2 separate regions of the Homo sapiens genome follow, and region 1 is linked to region 2. The links come from fine-mapping of genetic effects on gene expression. A gene starts in region 2. The other region holds a variant in brackets. All regions are shown on one strand. Distances are between the middles of the regions. Region 1 overlaps ZNF341 (zinc finger protein 341). Region 2 holds the start of E2F1 (E2F transcription factor 1).

The links.
Region 1: its variant is fine-mapped to the expression of E2F1 in whole blood (TOPMed, PIP above 0.99).

Annotation. Positions count from the first base shown.
Region 1 is chr20:33,768,929-33,774,297 of GRCh38, forward strand. It overlaps ZNF341 (zinc finger protein 341), which reads left to right. Exons shown (of 15, transcript NM_001282933.2): 10 at 1,156-1,364. Among named protein-coding and RNA genes, the nearest start is that of ZNF341-AS1, 39 kb to the right of the region's middle. RefSeq lists an enhancer at 4,584-4,653. The variant A/G (reference allele first, on the strand shown) is at 3,149.
Region 2 is chr20:33,683,087-33,688,455 of GRCh38, forward strand. It overlaps E2F1 (E2F transcription factor 1), which reads right to left and starts at 3,299. Exons shown (of 7, transcript NM_005225.3): 1 at 2,918-3,299. The coding sequence starts at 3,178. RefSeq lists silencers at 2,669-3,028, 3,139-3,638.

The DNA of each region.
Region 1 (5,369 bases), 86 kb after region 2:
AAACCCAAAGGAAGACAAAGCCTGTTCAACAGAGGCCATGGATAGCTATGCCTAATAACTGTCAATGAAAAAAAGAGATACTGAAGTCAGATTGTCAAATTACATACAAATCTGGTTAATGTCCTGCAAGACAACAAAACCTGTGACCTTTGGGGTTATCTTCTCTATCTGACAAAAATCAATTACGTTGGATTAGTTTTTTACAAATTAACAAATTAACATTTAACTGTAGAGTCCTAGTCAATGGAAAGTAGTCAGAAGTAGCCACATCCTGTAGAGAGTGTGATGACTGTGGGCCGGCTATAGGCAGGCTCCTTAGACAGCAGTTCTCAAAGTCCCAGGCCAGCAGCACCAGCATCCCCTGAGGATTTCTCGTTAGTGATGCACATATTCAGACCCACTAAGTCAGATTTCTCAGGGCCAGGGAGGGGGTGAAGGGGTGGTGGTGGGGGGGGGGGCAGTGGGAGGGGTGGCGGGGGCACAGCCCTCAGCAACCTGTAATTCTGAGGCCTGCTCCAGTTTGAGAGCCGGTATTCCAGTATGACATTGAAAGGGTATACACTGTCATCTTTTCACTGTATTTCCAGGTCTTGAATAATTTTTCTAAATATACCTATGCCACACAGAGCCTGAGGGAAGGGTAATAGGGCCATCACGACTGGCTGAGAGGAGGGAACCCTCTAATCAAGTTAAAACAAGGGGCTGGGCACAGTGGCTCATGCCTGTAATCCCATCACTTTGGGAGCCCAAGGCGGGTGGATCACTTGAGGTCAGGAGTTCGAGACCAGCCTGGCCAATGTGGTGAAACCCCGTCTCTACTAAAAATACAAAAATTAGCTGGGCATGGTGGTGTGCACCTGTAATCCCAGCTACTGGGGAGGCTGAGGCAGGAGAATCGCTTGAACCTGTGAAGTGGAGGTTGCAGTGAGCCGAGATTGTACCACTGCACTCCAGCCTGGGCGATAGAGTGCGACTCAGTCTCAAAAATGAATGAATGAATGAATAAAAACCCTGGGATCCAGTAGCAGCAGGGGGGCAGAGGGAGCAGTGGTCAGATCATTTACCATCAGTGTCCAAGGCCAATGCCACAGGCCAGGGGCTGCAGTGGAGGAAGCTCTCCTGCCTCCTGTCACCTGCCCAGCGTCTTCCCTCAAGGTGTACAAGTGTGTGGTCAAAAGCTGTGCCCAGACGTTCCCAAAGCTCGACACATTTCTGGAGCACATCAAGAGCCACCAGGAGGAGCTGAGCTACCGCTGCCACCTCTGCGGCAAGGACTTCCCCTCGCTGTACGACCTGGGCGTGCACCAGTACTCCCACAGCCTCCTGCCACAGCACAGCCCCAAGAAGGACAATGCCGTCTACAAGTAAGTGCCTCCTGCTTCCCTCTCCCTGGGTGGACGGGTGGGTGGGCAGGGAGCCCAGGGCCTGTGGCCTTGGTGGTTCTGACTGCTTAGGACCAGTGAGATATTTGAAAGGAGAAACCGAGGCTCCTGGCTGGGGTCCAGCCTGGCAGAGTGGGTTCTGGGCTTTGGCACTGGTGGAAGAAAGGATGCTGGCTCTCCTTATATCATTCTTATGTCTTGGCAGACATTTTTCCCAAAAAAAAATCCTTAAAAAGAGGAACCTATATTTCCTTGTTCATAGTGGGAAAAGGTTTGAGCATTTTATTCCAAACTAAACAATTATGACAGTATTATTTTGTCTCATAATCTACAAAATTTAGCTTACAGTCAAAGCGGTACACCGGTTCTTAACAATTAAAAAAGAATGGGCAGGGTGTGGCGGCCCACATCTGTAACCCCAGTACTTTGGGAGGCCAAGGCAGAAGGAGGCCAGGAGTTTGAGACCAGCCTGGCAACATAATGAGACCCCATCTCTACAAAATAAAATACATTTTAAAATGAACAGTTGGCTGGGCGTGGTGGCTCACACCTGTAATCCCAGCACTTTGGGAGGCTGAGGCGGGCAGATGATGAGGTCAGGAGATGGAGACCATCCTGGCTAACACGGTGAAACCCCGTCTCTACTAAAAATACAAAAAAAATTAGCCGGGCGTGGTGGTGGGCGCCTGTAGTCCCAGCTACTTGGGAGGCTGAGGCAGGAGAATGACGTGAACCCGGGAGGCAGAGCTTGCAGTGAGCTGAGACCGTGTCACTGCACTCCAGCCTGGGCGACAGAGCAACACTCCGTCTCAAAAAAAATAAAATACAATAAAATGAACGGTAACATGTTTAAAAGCAAAGATCATAAAAATAATATTCATTTGTTTTATAATCTATAAGATCTAGGTTAAAGTTGAAGCTATATGCTGATTCCTATTTTTATTTTATTTTTTTCTTTGAGATGGGGTTTTGCTCTGTTGCCCAGGTTGGAGTCCAGTGGCACCATCACAGCTCACTGCAGCCTCCCCGGGCTCAGGTGATCCTCCCACCTCAGCCACCTGAGTAGCTGGGACTAACAGGCATGTGCCCCACGCCCAGCTAATTTTTGTATTTTTTGTAGAGACGGGGTTTCGCCATGTTGCTCAGGCTGGTCTTGAATTCCTGGACTCAAGTGATCCTCCCACCTTAGCCTCCCAAAATGCTAGGATTACAGGCGTGAGCCACTGTGCCCAGCCTATATGATGATTCTTAGAATGAACAAGGGATGGATCAGGTATGGATTTTATTGGGGTAATTTATTCTGATAATCATTTATATCACTTCAGTCTTCCATTGTGGTCATGAAGAGGGTCCCTTTGGCAGAAATGATGAAAGGTTTCCTCAGTTTTGCAACATGCTTTTTATCCTTAGATCTTCATGTTAAAGCAGGGCACAGTGGCTCACGCCTATAATCCTAGCATTTGGGGAGGCTGAGGTGGGAGGATGGCTTGAGCCCAGGAGTTTGAAACCAGTCTGGGCAACATAGCAAGACCTTGTCTCAACAAAAATAGAAAAATTAGCCAGGTGTGTTGGCACGCACCCGTAGTCCCAGCTACTCAGGAGGCTGAGATGGTAGGATTGCTTGAGCCCAGGAGGTTAAGGCTGCTGTGAGCCATCATCGCGCCACTGCACTCAGCCTGAGCGACAGAGACGCTTGTCTTAAAAAAAAAAAAAAAAAAAAAAAAAGATCTTCACGTCATTCTCTTTGGACCTATTGACCTCTGATC[A/G]TCCTTGTTGAGTTTCTCTGCCTCAGTTGTTTTCTGGTCTGTTTTGCCAGGTCTTCCTTTGTTGATGGTGTTATTTGCAGTTGTGCAACATCACTTTGATGATGTCATGAAATCCCCCATCTGCAGTCATTTTGCTGTACATTTGCCTGCATCATCTGGGAGCACCTGCCTCACAAAACCCATGGGGGTAGATAGTAGCAAAAGGCCAGGAGTGGTGTTTGTGTGGGGCCTCCTTCCAGTTCATTAGCAAATATTTTCCCATTACAGTGGTTTTTGCTTCTCTGTACAAACTTGTACCTGCAGAGATTTGGTGTTTCTGTTAATGAGGCCCCTGTAACTCCTGGGTGAAGCTTCTGGGGTTCAGAGATAAGTAAATACCTTGAGCTTAAAATGCATGGGCTGCTCAGGGTGACTGGTGTGTAAACAAATGCACCCTATCACTTGATAAAATGCTATCATATATGTTTATAAGGTATAGAGATACCACAGGGGAGGCAGGCTAGAGAAGCTGTCCCAAGAGCAGTGACATCTGAACTGAGTTTTGAAGGATGAATAGGAGTTTGCCAGGTAGACAATGGATGGAGTGTGTTCCTATCAGGAGGAACCGCAAGTTTAAAATACAACAGCAAGTGATGTATTAATAGAATGACTGTTATGTGGAGTGGAAGCGGGAGGGAGATGTTTAGATGGGGCCTATGGGAAAAAGTGGGGCCAAGGCATGAAGGGCCACGTAGAAATCACAAGAGCTCTGAGAAGTTGGCAGAGGAGCTAGAACTCAAGAAATGGGGTGTAGGGTAACTTGCCCCCAAGACTCTGGGAAATGGGGCAAGAGAGGCAGGGAAGCTGGGCAAAGCTTTGGCCAGCCAAGGGGCAGAGATTTCTGGCAGTGATGACTTATTCCCGTTTGCACTTGATAAATTTTCTTTGGCTCTTGCCCTTCTGATTTGTGGATTATCTGTGAGTTCCTGTGGCTGTGTGACTCTGGAGTGAGATGCCAAGTAAAGGGAAGGAAGCACCTGCTCTGTGCCAAGCTTTGCCTTTAGTGACATGAATCCCTGCAGCCCTGGGAGGTAGGTGATATTCTCCCCATTTTGAAGATGAAGACACTGAGGTTCAAAGAGAAGTGACCTGCCCACCAGAGTAACAACATCAGCAGAGTTTAGATTCGAACCCTAGTGTGAGATCTTGGAAGCCTCATAGCCCTGGTCTTGGAGTTTGCAGGTTGAAGATTGAGCCCGATGCTGATGACCCTGTGCAGTCCCCTTGCAGGGTCATAGTGCCAGTGGCCCTTTGTAGACATTGGAGCTGTTGTCCTGTCCCAAAAGTAAGGCCCAATGAGCCAGGCCCCCATTTGGATGGCCTGAAGGTGGAATGGTGTCATGGGTAGTGATAAGGGTTCTGGAGCCATTGGCCTGTGCTTAAATCCTGTCTTGACTGCAAATCCAGTGGATGACCTTGGGCAAGGTATTCAGCCACTCTGAGCCTCGGTTTTCTCCTCTGTGAAATGGGGATCACAGTAGTGCCTGCCCTACTGGATTATTTATAAGGATCAAGTAAGACAAGGCTGAGGCTCTTAGACATGGTACCTGGAACATAGTAGGTACTCAATAAATGTTATTGCTACAATTATTATTATTTGTGTTATTTAAGTAGAAGTTTGGCTGCATGCAGTAGAAACCTCAAATAACAGTGACTTATACACCATGAGAGTTGATTCTGTCTCATAGTGACATTTGAGTGGCTGTGGTGGCTTCATCATATCTTTAGAAGTCCAAGCCCTGTCATTCTGGTTTCTGTTCCCTGTCAGCCACATTGCCTTGGCCTGCCTATGTGTACTTTCCCCAAACCTCTCAAATGACTTTTAGTCATGCCACTATATCTTTACTGTATGTTTAATATTTCCTTTTAAAAAATAAGATTTGGCTGGGTGCAGTGGCTCACTCTTGTAATCCCAGCACTTTGGGAGTCCGAGGAGGGCAGATCACTTGAGGTCAGGAGTTTGAGACCAGCCTGGCCAACACAGTGAAACCCTGTCTCTACTAAAAAAAAAAAAAAAAAAAAAAAAATTAGCTGGGTGTGGTGGCACACTCCTGTAGTCCCAGCCACTCCGGAGCCTGAGGCAGGAGAATCGCTCAAACTCGGGAGGTGGAGGTTGCAGTGAGCCAAGATTGTGCCACTGCACTCCATCCAGCCTGGGTGACAGAGAGAGAGACTCCGTCTC
Region 2 (5,369 bases):
AGCCTTAGGGAAAAAAAGGAAAAAAATGAATAGGGCTGGGATCCTGCCGTCAACTTTCTAGTTTCTTAAGAGTTAAGTTTTTGGCCAGGCGCAGTGGCTCACGCCTGTAATCCTGGCACTTTGGGAGGCCGAGGCGGGCAGATCACTTGAGGTCAGGAGTTCAAGACCAGCCTGACCAATATGGTGAAACCTCATCTCTACCAAAAATACAAAAATTAGCCGGGTATGGTGGTGCACGTCTGTAGTCCCAGCTACTCGGGAGGCTGAGGCAGAAGAATCGCTTGAACCCAGGAGGTAGAGGTTGCGGTGAGCCGAGATGGCGCCACTGTACTCCAACCTAGGTGACAGAGCGAGACTTCATCTCAAAAAAAAAAAAAAAAAAAAGAGTTAAGAGTTAAGTTTTCAGCTGGGCATGGTGACTCACACCTGTAATCCCAGCACTTTGAGAGGCTGAGACAGTCAGATTGTCTGAACTCAGGAGTTCAAGACCAGCCTGGGCAACATGGCAAGACCCTCTCTCTACTAAAAATACAAAAATTGGCTGGGCATGGTGGTACACGCCTGTAATCCCAGCTACTCGGGAGGCTGAGGCACAGAATAGCTTGAACTTGGGAGGCAGAGGTTGCAGTGAGCCGCAATCACGCCACTGCACTCCAGCCTGGGTAACAGAATGAGACCCTGTCTCCAAAAAAAAAATAAATAAATAAATAAAAAAGTTAAGTTTTCTACATTAAACATGTATTATAGTTATAATACTTGAGTTTGTGGAAGTGGACAGGCAGGGCCAAGAGGAATGGCTGAATTGCAGAGCCTTGTATACAGAATGCCTGCTGGTATAGAAGCTAAGCCTGTAGCTTATTTCAAGGACTGTGCCAGACAAATGCCAGTGCAGAGAGGCCAAAAGCCAAACCTGTGGACTTTCTGGACTTCAGTTCCAGAATGGTGCCAGCCTCCTGGCCCTTAAGTACACTGGGGGCCAGGGCTCCTTGTCTCTGGGCCTAGTGCCTCCTGGGCATTCACTAACTCAACAACTGTTGAATGAATGGAATGCCCAGGCCAATGAGCCTGCCCCTGACAGGTGGAGTGGAGGGCATTTTTCTTTGCCCCTGTCCCTCCCTTTGATCCTAGAACCCATAATCCTGTTCAGATCTTTGAGGACAAGACCCTCAGGTTGTTAGATTTCCGCAGACCTGAGCCTTCTATAATGCTTGTCACACAGCTGAATGGAAGATGCTTGCCCAGGTCCCAAGTGGTACCCACAGGAACAGGCCCCTGGAGTACAGGAGACAGGCCACCTGGCCCACCCCTGGTACAACCCCCTCCCACCCACTCATTAAGAGGGAGGGCCCCTAAAAGCCCTTCTTGCCCTTTCTTCAACCTGTATCAGCATCCCCAGAAAGCAAGGCATCCCAGAGGTCAACCTCAGAGGAAACGCAGACTGCTCTCCCCACTCAAGAGCAGAATGACATGGGAAGATTCTAACATCTCTAGGCCTCAGCTTCCCAATCTGTAAAAAGGGACTGCTGCTGATGGGGTTAAATGAGTTAATTAAGTAAAGCGCTTGGCACAGAGCCTGGCACACAAGACATCCTCAAAACAATGGTGGCTGCTATTGTTATTATTATTAGCATTGTGGTGATTCCGGAAGGCAGCACTGGGCATGGGGCCAAGGGGGTTGGGGGAGCCTCCTCAGGATGCCTCAGGGACCAGCTGCCACCCACACCCCCATCAGCAGTTAGGCAGCTTCTACCTCCTTGTCCTGAGTCCTGCCTCACCCCTCCCACTTGCTCCAAGTTCCCTGCTGAGACCCCATCCTGCCTGGCCAGACCCCGCCTGCACACCAGAGCCCCACCTTCACCCATAGGCTGCGCCAGTCAAACTGGTCTCCACACCCTGCCCTGTGCCCCACAGTTCCCAGCTCCAGGCTTCTACGCCTCCAATCCCTTCTCCCACTGGAATTCAGCCGCCTCTTCTGGGCCCTCCAGTCTGAATTCGTCTTGAGCTCAGCGATCAGGGAGGGCTTTATTAAAGGATCTCCCTGAGACATTTTCTCTCCTGGCACTGGGGGCCTCCTCTCCAGCTCCCAGAGGCCCAGCCCACCTAGTCCTTCTACAGAGACTCAGGGGTCGGCCTGCCTGATTAATGAGGTTCCATGGCAACCAGGGCCTGGGAGGGTGGAGGGTGGCAGATGGAAGGACAGGCAGAGGGAGGGGATCAGCAGCTGGTCCAGCTGCCCCGCCCCTGCAGAGAAGGCCTCCCAGCCAGGAGGGCTGTCCCCAGAGGCCTGGCCGGCCAGGCCTGCACCTGGCAGTCAGCATCGAGGCAGGAAGGAGGGTCTCCTCAATGGCTCACCAACGGTTAGGCCCCAGGACTTTCCTCCGCCCCGCCTTCACTTCCCCTAGCAGCTGTGCTCACTACCGAGATGCAAATTCTGAGCTGAAGCCAGCAGGCCTCAGTTCAAATCCCAGCCCCACCACCTGCAGCCGTGTGACCAGGGGCAAGTCACTTTCCCTCTCTGGGCCTCAGTTCCTCCTCCGTCAGATGGGCACAGTGACAACACAGCTCACAGCGGGGTTGTGAGTTTTAGCTGGCTTGAAGTCGCCCAAAGGCCTGGCATGCAGTAAACGCCAGTTGAATACACGTGGGCTATTATTATCACTGAGTCCGACGCTGGGGAGGCTCCGGTGAGGAAGCTGAGGCGCAGAGCACAGAGCAGCAAACAGGGACCGGCCCGAGGTCACCCCGCACCCCAGGGCGGGGCCCGGAGGCCCAACCCCGGCTCTGCACCGCCCAGCCTGGGCGCCTCAGTCAACCCCTCCCCCGCCCCCTGCCGCCTCCAGGCCAAACACGGCGCCCTCCCGGGTCTGCGCGGGGGGCACAGGCGGCGCTGTCGGCGCGGCGTCCCTGGGGTCCGTACCGGCGGGCGGCCGAGCGCGGGCCGCGGCGCACTGGGTGTGGGCCGGGGCGCCTGCGGTGTGGCGAAGAGCAGCAGGTCAGGGTCGCAGGGGCCGGCGGCGGGCGCCGCGGGGCCGGTGGGAGCCGGCGGGGCGCTGGCGTCCTGCGCGGCGGAGATGATGACGATCTGCGAGGAGTCGAGCAGCCGCAGCGCGCCGGCCCCGAGCAGGGCCTCCAGCGCCGGCGCGCATGGGCCGCCCGCAGGGGCCCCGGCCAAGGCCATGACGCTCACGGCCCGCGCGGCCCGGGTGACAGGCGGCGGCGGCGGCGCGGGCCCATGGCGGCAGGCCTCGGCGAGGGCTCGATCCCGCTCCGCCCCCGGCCGCCGCTGCCTGCAAAGTCCCGGCCACTTTTACGCGCCAAATCCTTTTTGCCGCGAAAGAGCCACGAGCCGCCGAGCGCCGCCACAATTGGCTGCCCCGGCCGTGACGGGAACAACGGCGGCGGTTCCTATTGGCTTTAACGCGCCGGACCCGGCGGCGAGGGGCGGGATGGGGCGGCGGCGCGGGGCGGTACGGCCAATGGCGGGGCGGGGCGCGCGCAGGCTTTGTCCGGATGGTACCAGGCGCGGTGTGACTCCCCGCCCCCAGCCCGGGCGTCCCCTGCTGGAGGCGTGGGGACACCGGAACATAGGCCCCGCCCCGCCCCGACGCTCCCGCATCCCACTGACCTTTCTATAGTGCAGGTTCAGAACAGAGCCTCTCTTCTGCACGTGACCCTCAACCTGTAGCCCCCAACAGCCTCAGCTTAGATTTCCAGAGACTGTCCCCTCTTCTTTTCAGGATCATCAGTTCCACAGCCCAGCCATCAGCCACCTCTTCCATCCTCAACTTGCCTCACCCATGACATTATCCTAATCCTGCACCCAGCCCTATCCCGCTCACCCAGAGCCCAAGCTGAAGAGCGGTGCCTGGAAATGGCGAGGGGGACGTCGGGCTTTCCTGCAAGTCCCATTTTAGCCAAAATCTCCAACAGCCAACGTATAGCATCTGCTTGAACTCATTCATTCCCTCACTCATTCAACAAACGTTTGGAGAGCTTGCTCTGTGCCCCATCCTCAATTCGTGGCCCTAAGGAGCTCACAGTCCAGTAGACAGGGGAACAGAAAGGTAACAGACGTTTACAATACGATGAAGTGGCGTCTGGGCGCGGTGGCTCACCACCGGAATCCCTGTAATCAGCTGGCGGGGTGGATCGCATGAGCCCAGGAGTTCGAGACCAGCCTGATCAACATGGTGAAGACCCATCTCTACAAAAAATACAAAAATTAGCCAGGCATGGTGGCGTGTGCCCGTAGTCCCAGCTACTTGGGAGGCTGAGGTGGGAGGATTGCTTGAGCCCGAGAAGTCGAGGCTGCAGTGAGCTATGATCATGCCACTGCACACCAGCCTGGGCGACAGAGCGAGATCCTGTCTCTAAAACAAAAAAAGAAAACACATCACTTCTAGGGAGCCCTCCCAAGGATTTACTCACTTCCTCTATTGCCCACTGCTGCCTCTGCTCCAATGCTGACCACACACACTCCTTTTCTCCATCTGCCTCCCCTGCCAATCTAGGAGCTCAGTAGCGACTCCTCCCAACACTGGTCTGGCCCAGAGCAGGCGCTGAGAAAGGTTATGAAAGAAACAGAGGCTAAGCCAGAGGCTGCCTAGACTGTGACAAGGAGACCACGGTTCTGCAAGGGTGGTCCTTAGGCCACTGGCTTCAGAACCACGTGGTCACTTGCTAATTTTGGGCCCACCCTGGCCCTGCCAATTTAAAATCTCTAGGTGCCCAAGAATCTGCATTTTAACAATGCCATGTCCCCTTTCCAGGTGATATTTGTTATTCTTTTTCTTTTTTTTTTTTTGACACTTAGGGAATTAGAAAAGCCAGTATCTTATTTTTTTTTTCCTATTTATTTTATATAGACGAGGTCTCACTATGTTGCCCAGGGTAGTCTCAAACCCCTGGGCTCAAGAGATCCTCCCGCCTCAGCCTCCAGCATAGCTGGTACTCCAGGTGACTGCCACCTCACCAAGCTTCCAGGTTATTTTTATGCATACTCACATTTGAAAGCAAACTGGTGTACCAGCATAATCAAAATGAGTGGTGCAGCCTCAAATCACAGCTCCTGAGGATGCTTCTCACCCTTAGTTTCAAATGGGCACACAGACCTTGCCCTGGCCCCTTCCAGGGTTGCCAGGAGAATGAAAAGCATAAGGAATTGGAAAGTGTTTTACAAACTATGAGGTGGTTTAGGAAATCAGGAGTTGTTTTCCCCTCCAATGAGTAGTTTCTGAAATTACTCATTGCAAATCCTAGAATGTATCATAGCTAGAAGGGACCACAGAGACCACATAAGCCTCTTGCTGTATGGATAGGAAAACTGAGGCCCTTTCAGGAGAAAGTAACTGTGAAGCCAACCAGTGACC